2 separate regions of the Homo sapiens genome follow, and region 1 is linked to region 2. The links come from fine-mapping of genetic effects on gene expression. A gene starts in region 2. The other region holds a variant in brackets. All regions are shown on one strand. Distances are from middle to middle.

Region 1 (5,379 bases), 88 kb before region 2:
TTGCATCATCTGTGGACATTTGAATGGAGATGCTGCATAGGCAACTGGATATTTAAGTCTGAAATTCAGGAATGAGATCTGGGCCTGAGACATAAATTTGGGAGTTGGTTGTATGCAGATGATATTTAAAGCCATTGGATAGGATGAGCTCACCAAGTGAGTGAGTGTGGATGGAAGAGGGAATGGTTCAAGAGCGGAGCCCTGGGATACTTTAGTGGTGAGGAGTTGGAGAGGAAAGGAGGAAGCAGCAAAGGAGCTTGAAAAGGAACAATCATGAGATTGGGCAAGGAGTGTATGGCATCCTGGGAACCAAGTGAAGAAGATATATCAAAGAGGAAGGGGAAATTGATGGATGCCATGAAAACTGACCATCAGACTCAGCAGCTTAGAGGTCATTGGTGACCTTAACAGGAACAGTCTTTGTGGACTGCTAGGGACAAAGTCTTATTGGTTTAAGAGAGTGAGAAGAGAGGAATTGGAGACAGTTAAGTATAAACAGGTTTTTTTTTCTTCATGAGTTTTGCTAAAAAGGGAAGCAAATTAGTGGAGTGATAGCTAGCCAGGGAAGTGAATTCGAGAAAAAGAATTTTTATTTGTAAAATTTTGTTTTATTTTAAGATGGAAGAAGTACAGCATATTTCTAAGAAGGTTCACAGTCTTTGTGTTTGGCTTTAAGACATTATTTACATTCGGCGTAGTTCTTGCTCAAACACATGTGCTTCATATTTGGTACTCTGATTTCTTGTTTGGGAATTGTTCATAAGTACATCTAAGGTACAGGCCATGGCAGATGTGACAACTACTTGCTGAACTATTAGTAATGGACAGATTGTATTATTTTCAGAATTCTTTCTCATGAGGCAAGAGAGATTAAGTAATTTATCTGACATCATACAACTGATAGAGGTAAAGCTGAAACATGAAACCACTTCTGGCCTCGATAACGTAGTTTAGGTCCTGATTGCAGTGCTAGCAATTAGTGGAGAAAAGTTGAGAGGAGGAAATGAATAAAGGACGTGGGGGAGGGGTATAGCAGAAAGGAAAGAAGAGAAGAGGAGGGTAATGGGAGATCCAGTAGGCAATACAGGAATGAAAAGGATTATATATAATCTCTAATAAAGAATGTTTGGAAAGCTACCCTACTTTAAATTTGACAATTCATATAAAGTGCTTAACACAACGCCTGGCACCTCTTGACAAATATTAGCTGCTAACATCATTATCATCATCATTTCCACTGTCTCCATCCACAAAAATATATCATGAACTCTGCCAGCCCAAAGTATTAGGGTCAATTAGATTATTAAAAATTGTGTGATTCTGCACCCTTTTCCTGCACTGTCCTAAGCATGTTTCCATTTTAACCCCAGCTTTACCACTTATCATTATTTTAACAAGGATTTATCAAACACCTGCTGCATGCTAGGCACACGTTATTGCTTATTTCCCATGCAAGCGTAATTTAGCTTTGCATCATGGGCACATAGTGAGTACTCAGAAATTCCTAGATGAATAAACAAATGGAGAATGGGGTGCCCTTTGATTTTCTACCCTTTAGAGTTTGTCTTCCGCTATGCCCTTTTTCTGATTTCAGTCATCAGATCCTTTTGGTTACTTGAAATGGCCAAGTTACGAGCAATTTCGTAACTTGCTCGTATCCCAACCTGAATCCCAGGCTTGGGATCCTGATGTAGCTTGGCATACCTCATCAGAAGCTTTTTCTCAAACTCAACTTTCCAACTCTTTTTATGTCCCTACCCCAATATCTTACCCTTCCTCATTCTTAAAATGAATAGTTGTCAGCATTTCAACCACTCTTCAGAGCACAAGAAGGCCCCTTCTTTCTCTATCTTAAAATCATAAGACTCAGAACTTTCTGCAGTCATTAGTGGCATTAGCCACGGAACCACAGAATTACAGTTGAGGAAAGTGGATGTGGAAACTGAGGCTTCAGGAGGTGATGGGTGAGTGAGTGAATGGCTGATCCCAGGGCTCCTGACACAGGACCCCCCCATATCAGTGCACACAAGTGAAAGTCATCCACTAGACCTCCTCCAGGCAAGGCCATAGAGGGGTACTCCCACACAGCTTCTTCAGTAAAAGTACAGCTGTTTGCCAAGTGACTGAATGATCTCTGTGCTCAGCATGGACAAATTTTCTAGTTTAAACTTTTATTGTCTGCTTCTGACCCCTCTCAGGTCACTCTGACTGCTGAGACCTCATGTAGCTACATTTCCTGGCCCCGGAAAAGTCTCCATCTTCTTCTGACCAAAGAGCGATACATCTCCTGCCTCTTCTCGGCTCTGCTGGGATATGACATCTCAGAGAAGCTCTACACTCTCAATGACAAGCTCTTTGCTAAGTTTGGGCTGCGCTTTGACATCCGCCTTCCCAGCCTCTACCATGTCCTGGGTCCCACTGCTGCAGATGCTGGACCAGAGTCCGAGAAGGGTGATGAGGAAGTCTGTGAGCCAGCTGTGTCCCCTCCTCAGGCCACACCCACCTCTCTCCAGCAAACACCCCCTTGTTCTACCCCTCCAGCTACCACCAACTTTCCTGCACCTCCTACCCGGGCCAGGTTGTCCAGGCCAGACAGTGGCATACTGGGTGAGGACTCCACCAGTCTGGTGCTGGAGGATTTTGAGGAGGTGTCAGGATCAGAATCGTTTATGGATTATAGGAGTGATGGGGAGTACATGAGGTGAAGGGAGAACTAACATGGGCACAGCCACCGGCTCAGGATCCTATGTAAGTACTCAGAAGGCAGCCGCTGCACATTCCTGTCAATGGCTGGCCTTAACTCAGCTTGTTAGGGCAAAAAAAATCATTC[G/A]TGGAACATTTCCTCTTAGAGGACTCACAGAAAGTGGCATTAACCCAACTTTGAAGATAGCAACTCACTCCGGGTGCATGCAAGGCATGAAGGGATTTTAAAAACTCATTCGTTATTAACTTGATTGCATTTTAGAAAGTGGGCTGGTTGATACGTTGAGCAGGAAGGTAGATTGCTGTTTTTTTGCAAGTTTATTCTAATAGCTGAGGCCACAGCTGGGGCTTAAGGGGCTTTTATTTGTGGCATGCATTTTAAAAGAAAAAGAATGTGGCAGGGTTCTAATTCTGATTGCTTGTCTTTCCTGATACAGAGCCCGTCCTGGAAAGCAGTTGTTATTTAGCCTAGACTGGGCAGGCATCTCTGTTAAAACTGCATATTTTAAAGAGGATTGTGATTATGAGCTAATAGCTCGGGGAGGAAAATGTCCTCATCTTGCTTTCCTCTCACCCAGTGGAGAATGTGTTTGTTGATCACACAGACAGAGGACTAGATACTGCTATGATTAAATGTTACTATGATCAGATAGGTATATGGCAGCCTGGCTTTCCCCAGTCACCCACACCTGTGGGAGGTAGGATGTGCATAAATCCTGGAGGGCCTAACAGTGCGTGCAGGATTTCCCTCACAGAATTTCCCTCCCAGAGAGTCTACAAGAAAGGCTGTGCCCAGTGGTTCTGGGAAATTGCTCTCATGTTTCCCTGGCTGCCCTCATAATACTGTGATGTTTTTCTCTGTAACTCCACCCAACCATGATGTAGGCCTGAATTTCCTGAGGAAAATCCCATTGTTCCCAATTTGGAAGGCGCCTCCCATGGTTCTTCAGAAAGCACCAATAAATTACCTGAGAAACTAGCCCAGTGAGGAAGGCCTCCAGAGTACATGAAATGAATGAGTGAATGTTTGTCTATTTTGAAAAACAGGTTATATAAATGATGAAAGAGGCCATAGAGATGACTGATGAAAGGTTAGAGATTTAGTTTTGTAGATATGGAATTTACAATCTCCTGTGTTACCAGCATCCTTAGAACCATAGTTCAGCTCATTCTGAGGTAATTCCAAGGATCAATCTAACACCCCAGATCACTTTGTTGAGTTCCCCGAAGTGTGCATTGACAACTCTGATCACTCCTTTCCCTCTGTGCAGCTGTTCGCCTTCCTACTCGTTCATCCTGCATCCACGCATGCTCCTTATGTCCTATGGATCCCTCTTGGTCCAACTTGCCCATCCACCTATACACTCTCTCTTCGACTCACAGCAGCTCTCTGTTTTCTCATGTTGTTCTTCCTGGTTTTCTTCTCTTTTCTTGGTTCTATTTTTCTCTTCTTTCTTCTCCAATTTCTTCTCAGTCCTTGATTGCCTCAGTTTGATGTTCTGTTCTTTTTTCCTTTTCTTTCTTGAGACAGGGTCTCACTCTGTCACTCAGGATGGAGTGCAGTGGCATGATGTCGGCTCACTGCAATCTCTACCTCCAAAAGCTCAAGCGATCCTCCCATCCCAGCCTCCCAAGTAACAGGGATTACAGGCACATGTCGCTGTGCCTGGATAATGTTTAATTTTTAAATTTTTTTGTAGAGACAAACTCTCCCCATGTTGCCCAGGTTGTTCTCGAACTCCTGGGCTCAAATAATCCTCCTGCCTTGGTCTCCCGAAGTGTTAGGATTACAGGCATGAGCCACCATGCCTGGCCAGTTTGCTGCTCTTAAGTGTCCATTTTCTATGTCTTCTCAGTTCATTTCTCCCTCTTCACTTGTCTCTTGTTTTCTTCCATTTTATTGTTCATATATTTATCTCTCCTATTACCTCCTTTTTTCTTTTTCCCACCTTTTTTGCCTTGCTGTATCTATTCTTCCTCCTAAACACCCTGTACCCCCATCTTATTAGTTTTTAATCCTAACTCTTCCAAAGATCAGTACTTTTCCCTCTGCCTATAAAGAAAACCATTCAAGTGAAGGTGTAAAATCCCCAGCTTTAGGAATGTTTTCCAAACATCAGGAGGCAGGCAGCATGGTAAATGAGAAAGAGGCCAGGACTGGGAGTCCAAAGTCCTGGCTTCTATGTCTGGCTTTGCTACTAATCAAATATGTGACTTTTTGCAAACCATACCTCACTAAACCTTACTTTCTTCATTTGAGCGTGTTGGACCAGCTGTCCCCAGGAACCCCCTTGGATTGATCTGAGAAGGCAAGGATAAGTTTTTCAAAGGAAGAAAAGAGGAGTAGTCAGTCCGCAGTACAGTAGACACAAGCCCCAGGACATCTGAGTGTCTTTCAGCAAGAACTCTCTGTGATATTTCACTACAATTTCTCTGGCACCTTGGGACTCTCCTCAGCCCTTGTGGTGGTGGGTCTTGTTTAACTAGCAGTTCCCTCCATTCTATGCCTGTGAAGAATCTATCACCTACCATGTGATTACAGTGCAGATTTTTTTTTCCTTTTCCTTTTCTTTTTCTTTCTTTTTTTTTTTTTTTTTGTTTGAGACGGAGTCTCGCTTTGTCACCCAGGCTGCAGCGCAGTGGCGCGATCTCGGCTCACTGCAAGCTCCGCCTCCC
Region 2 (5,359 bases):
CAGAAAGATGGAACCTTCATTTCCACAGAGATCATCCTGTTCAGGGGTAAAGCAAAGGGCCAGGCTTCCCCTACGGTGTCGCAACAGCCTCTGCACCAACCTCTGAGTGACAAAGCTGCATCTCCCTCTCGTCATCTCTTCCTGCTGGGTCCTCTACAGTCTGTGATTGTGTTTTCATTTCATTTATAATGTCTTTCATTGTACAAATATTTTTAATTTTTATGAATTCAAATCTGTGTATCTTTTCTTTTTTCGTGGCTTCCAAGTTTTGTGTCTTGCTCACCCTAGAATTATAAAAATATACTTTCATAAATTTATCCTTTCAATTTTTCACATAAAAATTTTTAAAAGAATTTTTATGTGAATTATTTTTAAAAGAATTTCTTTTACTTTTATTACAGTAAAGCCAAGGATGGATTTACAAAAAAATAAGTGGCACTAAAGAATTTACACTGAGGAGCAGTAATTCCTGCTTTATTCTTCTCCAACCCTGGGTCTGCTCCTCAGAACAAACTCATTTAAAGTTTTTTTGTTTTGTTTTGTTTTGTTTTTGAAACAGAATCTTGCTCTGTCACCCAGGCTGGAGTGCAATGGCACAATCTTAGCTCACTGCAACCTCCGCCTCTGAAGTTCAAGCAAGTCTCATGTCTCAGCCTTCCCAGTAGCTGGGATTACAGGTATGCACCACTATGCCCAGTTTTTTGGTTTTTTTTTTTTTTTTGGAGAGCTGGGGTTTCATCACGTTGGCCAGCTGGCCTCGAACTCCTGGCCTCAAGTGATCCGCCCACCTCAGCCTCTCAAAGTGCTGGGATTACAGGCATGAGCCACTGTGCCCAGCCTCCTTTTAAATCTTTTACTTGGTTTTGTTTTGTTTTGTTTTGTTTTCCAGTAATATAGGTATTCGGGTTCGGCTTCCTTTGCCCGTCTTCATCCATCTCACCTCCAGTGTCCAGAAATTTACCTTAGAAATCTGTGGTCCACAGGTCATGCTCCTAGACACATTGTAGGAGGAAGAGGAATTAAACACATCCCATTAGTACATAATCTTGGAAGAGAAGCCTTCTGAATTTTACAATCAGGATTGGGGAAACTCTGTAAAGTACCTTCCTGGTGTTCCTTTCTTCCAGCCTCTTTGATTAAGTCACATCAAAGCGCTAATGGCAAAGTTGTTTAATGTGTGTTTCTCCAAGGCAGGTTAGGATTTCACTGGGATTCTTAAAATTTGAGGGTGTCTGTGATCGTCAAAATTTGTATTCATGTAGTCCCTCATGAAATTTCTAAAACTCGGCTGGGTGCAGTGGCTCATGCCTGTAATCCCAGCACTTTGGGAGGCCGAGGAGGGTGGATCACAAGGTCAGGAGTTTGAGACCAGCCTGGCCAATATGGTGAAACCCCATCTCTACTAAAAATTTAAAAATTAGCCTGGCATGGTGGCACACGCCTGTAGTCCCAGCTACTCAGGAGGCTGAGGCAGAAGAATTGCTTGAACCCAGGAGGCGGAGGTTGCAGTGAGCCAAGATTGCACCACTGCACTCCAGCCTGGGCGGCAGAGAAAGACTTCATCTAAAAAAAAAAAAAGAAAATAAATTTCTAAAACTCTGTATTTCTTTGCTCTTTTAAGTTGACATCTATAACTTTCTATTACTTTAAATACCTGGAAAAAAAATCACTTCCAGTGCATTGTAATAATGTATCAAGTAGAAGTGGCTAAAATCAGTGAAAACATTTCTTTGATCTGAATAAATGTTCAAGAAAATAGAAAACATGAACTTACCTCCAATCTATGTTCCCTTTACTTGAAAATGTAATGTTGATCTACTAGAGGTAAGGCAGGAATTGTCACATCCATATTCCTTGCAACTATTCAAAATATGCATCTGAGACCAGAACAAGACACAGGTGAAGAAGGGTGCTCACTAGGCCCCTTCTGCCAATACAGAAGGAGACAGTGCAGTGGAGTCCTTTCATAGCAAGTTCTGCCTTCATGATTTCCAAAGCTTCAGTATTCCAAATCTCAGGTGAATAGGGTGGTATCCACTAAGCTCTGCCACAAACTTGTTGCTGAGATGAAGGAAGCCGCCGCTGTAGTCAGTATTTCTCACCCACACGGTTTGCTCTCTTTCTGGCTGGTGTGGGAAGGATGGCGTCTTTTTTTTTTTTTTTTTTTTGAGATGGAGTCTTGCTCTGTTACCCAAGCTGGATTGTAGTGTTGTGATCTCGGCTCACTGCAACCCATGCAAGGTGCTGTCAGGTTCCACCTGTGCAAACAAGTACACTGGTCCAGCATGGGTCAGCTGCTCACTCACAGGGGCTCCAGAATCCTACAAAGGGACACACAGGGGTGGGTGGCAACCTAGTTGGAAATGGGAGTGATGGGCATGACTAAAGTCTTCCTCATCCCACCAGAGGCGCACTCAACTGTGGCTAGGGTGACCAGAATTCACTGTCCAGCGTGGCTGGCAGGAGCCCACTCTCTGAAGATGGTGGGATTCAGAGGTGGGAGTAGAGTTGGGTGGTCCTGTGAGCTGAGCACTCTCCCAAAAGTGTCCCCTACATATGAGGTTGACAGCTTATTCCTGCAGGGACTCAGGAGTAACTCTGGGTGCTAAAACAAAACTTGAGACCAGCACAGAAACAGCCAGCCCATGAAGCTGGCCTCCCATCACACAGCAAGGCTAGCCAGATGCCCCTCACTCTTCTCGGGCACCATTCTTCTCCTCCCCTAGGCCGCCTGGTGCTCGTGGTGTTTCATGTTTGTTAGTCCATGCACGGTGGTGAGGGAGGCTGCTGTGTGATTTGCCCCAGCCACAGCCTCTACAAAAGCAACTAGAAGAAGACGGCAGCAGAGGGCGCTTCTTCAAACACCCTGTCCAACTCCTGGCACTGACAAGTACTGAGTGAACTCAAACCCTCTGTAAAGTAACAGAAGTTAGAAGGGGAAATGTCGCCTCTCTGAAGATTACCCAAAGAAAAAGTGATTTGTCATTGCTTTATAGACTGTAAGAAGAGAACATCTCAGAAGTGGAGTCTTACCCTGAAATCAAAGGATTTAAAGAAAAAGTGGAATTTTTCTTCAGCAAGTAAGTACATTTACTATTATCTTACTATGGGATAGCTTGGTAGAACTAGTTACCAGCAACCTCACTGCTTTTTAAACAAACAATACCTCTGCTACCACCTCCTGGATCCAGGCTTGCCCTCAAAGGAACCCTTAGGGTCTCATTCCCACAGGAGGCTGTGGCTTCCCGACATATTTGGAGCATCATAGTGAGAATTGTGGCCCATTATTTTAAAATATCCTAGATCCTAGCAAATATTGTTTTTGTGGGCCGTATTTGAATTTCTCAAGCCAGTAAAATTCTAGTGAAAGTGGGAAAATCGCTTGAGCTCGGGAGGTTGAGACTGTGGTGAGCTATGGTCACGCCACTGCACTCTAGCCTGTGTGACAGAGCAAGATTCTATCTTAAGAAAAACAAATTCTGGTGAATAAGTCTCTTTTAACTAATCCTGTCTAAAATGGATGATGGCTAATAAAACAATATGGCGTGGCTGGAACTCTAGCTCTAGGGTGGTCTCCAAAGAGGACACTCAAGCATTCTCTGAGCAGCACGGGGCTGTGTCCTGGTAGCAGCCTGAAGGGGTGACAGTGGAGCACAGTGTTTATTTTCATTTCTCAATTTTGACATATTTACTGGAAAAATTAATCCCTAGCCACCTCACATGACAGTACATAATTTTTTTTTTTTTTTTTTTTGAGATGGAGTCTCACTCTGTCGCCTAGGCTGGAGTGCAGTGTTGCAATCATCTTGGCTCACTGCAGCCTCCACCTCCTGGATTCAAGCAATTCTCGTGCCTCAGCCTCCCAAGTGGCTGGGATTACAGGCACCCACCACCACACCTGGCTAATTTTTGTATTTTTGGTAGAAATGGGGTTTTGCCATGTTGGCCAGGCTGGTCTGGAACTCCTGGCCTCAAGTAATCCGCCCACCTCAGCCTCCCAAAGTGCTGGGATTACAGGCGTGAGCCACCACGCCTGGCCCTGGAGTACATAATTTTGATAAGTAACGTCTGCAGTGTCTTTTTTTCCCTCCCTTTTTATGGATAGACTTTTCTGGTTATTGAGATCTCATACCCCTTTATGATATATTATTTGAGTAGAGGGTTTAAAGAATTGAGATACTTGTTTTCTTATGTTAATATGTCAAGAAAGAAGTTGTTTCATAACTTAGGTCCTGCCTTGGACAAAATACACCCTTACTGTCTGCTCTATGTTTCTTGGTATGTTCAGAAGAGGATTTGAACTTTTGCAGGTTGGCTAACAGATATGGAGGGTCCTTAGAGCTCTCCTGTTTCTAACCAAATCTTCACCCCACCTATTAAGTAGAAAGCCTTTTCATGGAAGGGCTGTGGTTGGTTCTTGGAACTGGTCCCCTCACAGAATTTCCATTCGCTTTTCCTCAGGGTCACGCCCTGCTTTAGAGGTTGCTTAGGTTAAGCTCTCCAATTAATTTTAGCAGGCAACTCGAGAGTTTTGCAACTCAAAGTAGGCACACCTTCCTTCCTGAATGACTTTTATTTGTTCCTTTTTCAGGCTGTGAAACTAAATCCACAACCTTTGGAGACCCAGGAACACCCTCCAATCTCTGTGTGTTTTGTAAACATCACTGGAGGGTCTTCTACGTGAGCAATTGGATTGTCATCAGCCCTGCCTGTTTTGCACCTGGGAAGTGCCCTGGTCTTACTTGGGTCCAAATTGTTGGCTTTCACTTTTGACCCTAAGCATCTGAAGCCATGGGCCACACACGGAGGCAGGGAACATCACCATCCAAGTGTCCATACCTCAATTTCTTTCAGCTCTTGGTGCTGGCTGGTCTTTCTCACTTCTGTTCAGGTAAGCAACTTTCAGGAACTTAACTGAGTCAACTGCTACAGGGTTAAGAGAAAGGACATGGGGTTCTCTGAGCTGCTCCCTTCTATTATCCTATAAGCTGGAAGGAACCTTCAGGGTGTTTTCAGAAGATTTTAAAGATTAGAAGACTGTGGTCCAAAGAGGTTAAAGGACCTGCCTATCATCACACAGCAAGTTAGCAACCAAGTTAACTCAAGAACCCAGGCCTTCAAGGAAGCGTGGAAGGGACAGTGTTATTTTAACAAAACCATACAGCCGATTCATAATGGTCTCTTCCATGAATATTAGATGCTCATTTACATTTTGTGATGTGCCGATACTGGCCTCGGAGTCTAGTCCCAAACTATGTTTTCATGATACAGCTCAGCGAAAGTGTCCTGCTTCTAAAATTGAACAATGGTGATCTTCTTTCCAATCTGAAGGCGGGAGAGTAGTTGAGGACAATTCCTC

The links.
Region 1: its variant is fine-mapped to the expression of CD80 in thyroid (GTEx, PIP 0.97).

What each region holds. Positions count from the first base shown.
Region 1 is chr3:119,645,488-119,650,866 of GRCh38, reverse strand. It overlaps POPDC2 (popeye domain cAMP effector 2), which reads left to right. Exons shown (of 4, transcript NM_001369919.2): 3 at 2,199-2,748. The coding sequence ends at 2,705. Among named protein-coding and RNA genes, the nearest start is that of POPDC2, 12 kb to the left of the region's middle. The variant G/A (reference allele first, on the strand shown) is at 2,831.
Region 2 is chr3:119,557,161-119,562,519 of GRCh38, reverse strand. It overlaps CD80 (CD80 molecule), which reads left to right and starts at 2,906. Exons shown (of 7, transcript NM_005191.4): 1 at 2,906-3,080; 2 at 4,592-4,891. The coding sequence starts at 4,792. It overlaps LOC107986118 (a long non-coding RNA gene), which reads right to left and starts at 2,090. Exons shown (of 2, transcript XR_001740861.2): 1 at 1,775-2,090; 2 at 194-284. RefSeq lists enhancers at 1-151, 2,633-2,682, 3,453-3,512, 3,783-3,942, 4,304-4,598 and a silencer at 4,304-4,598.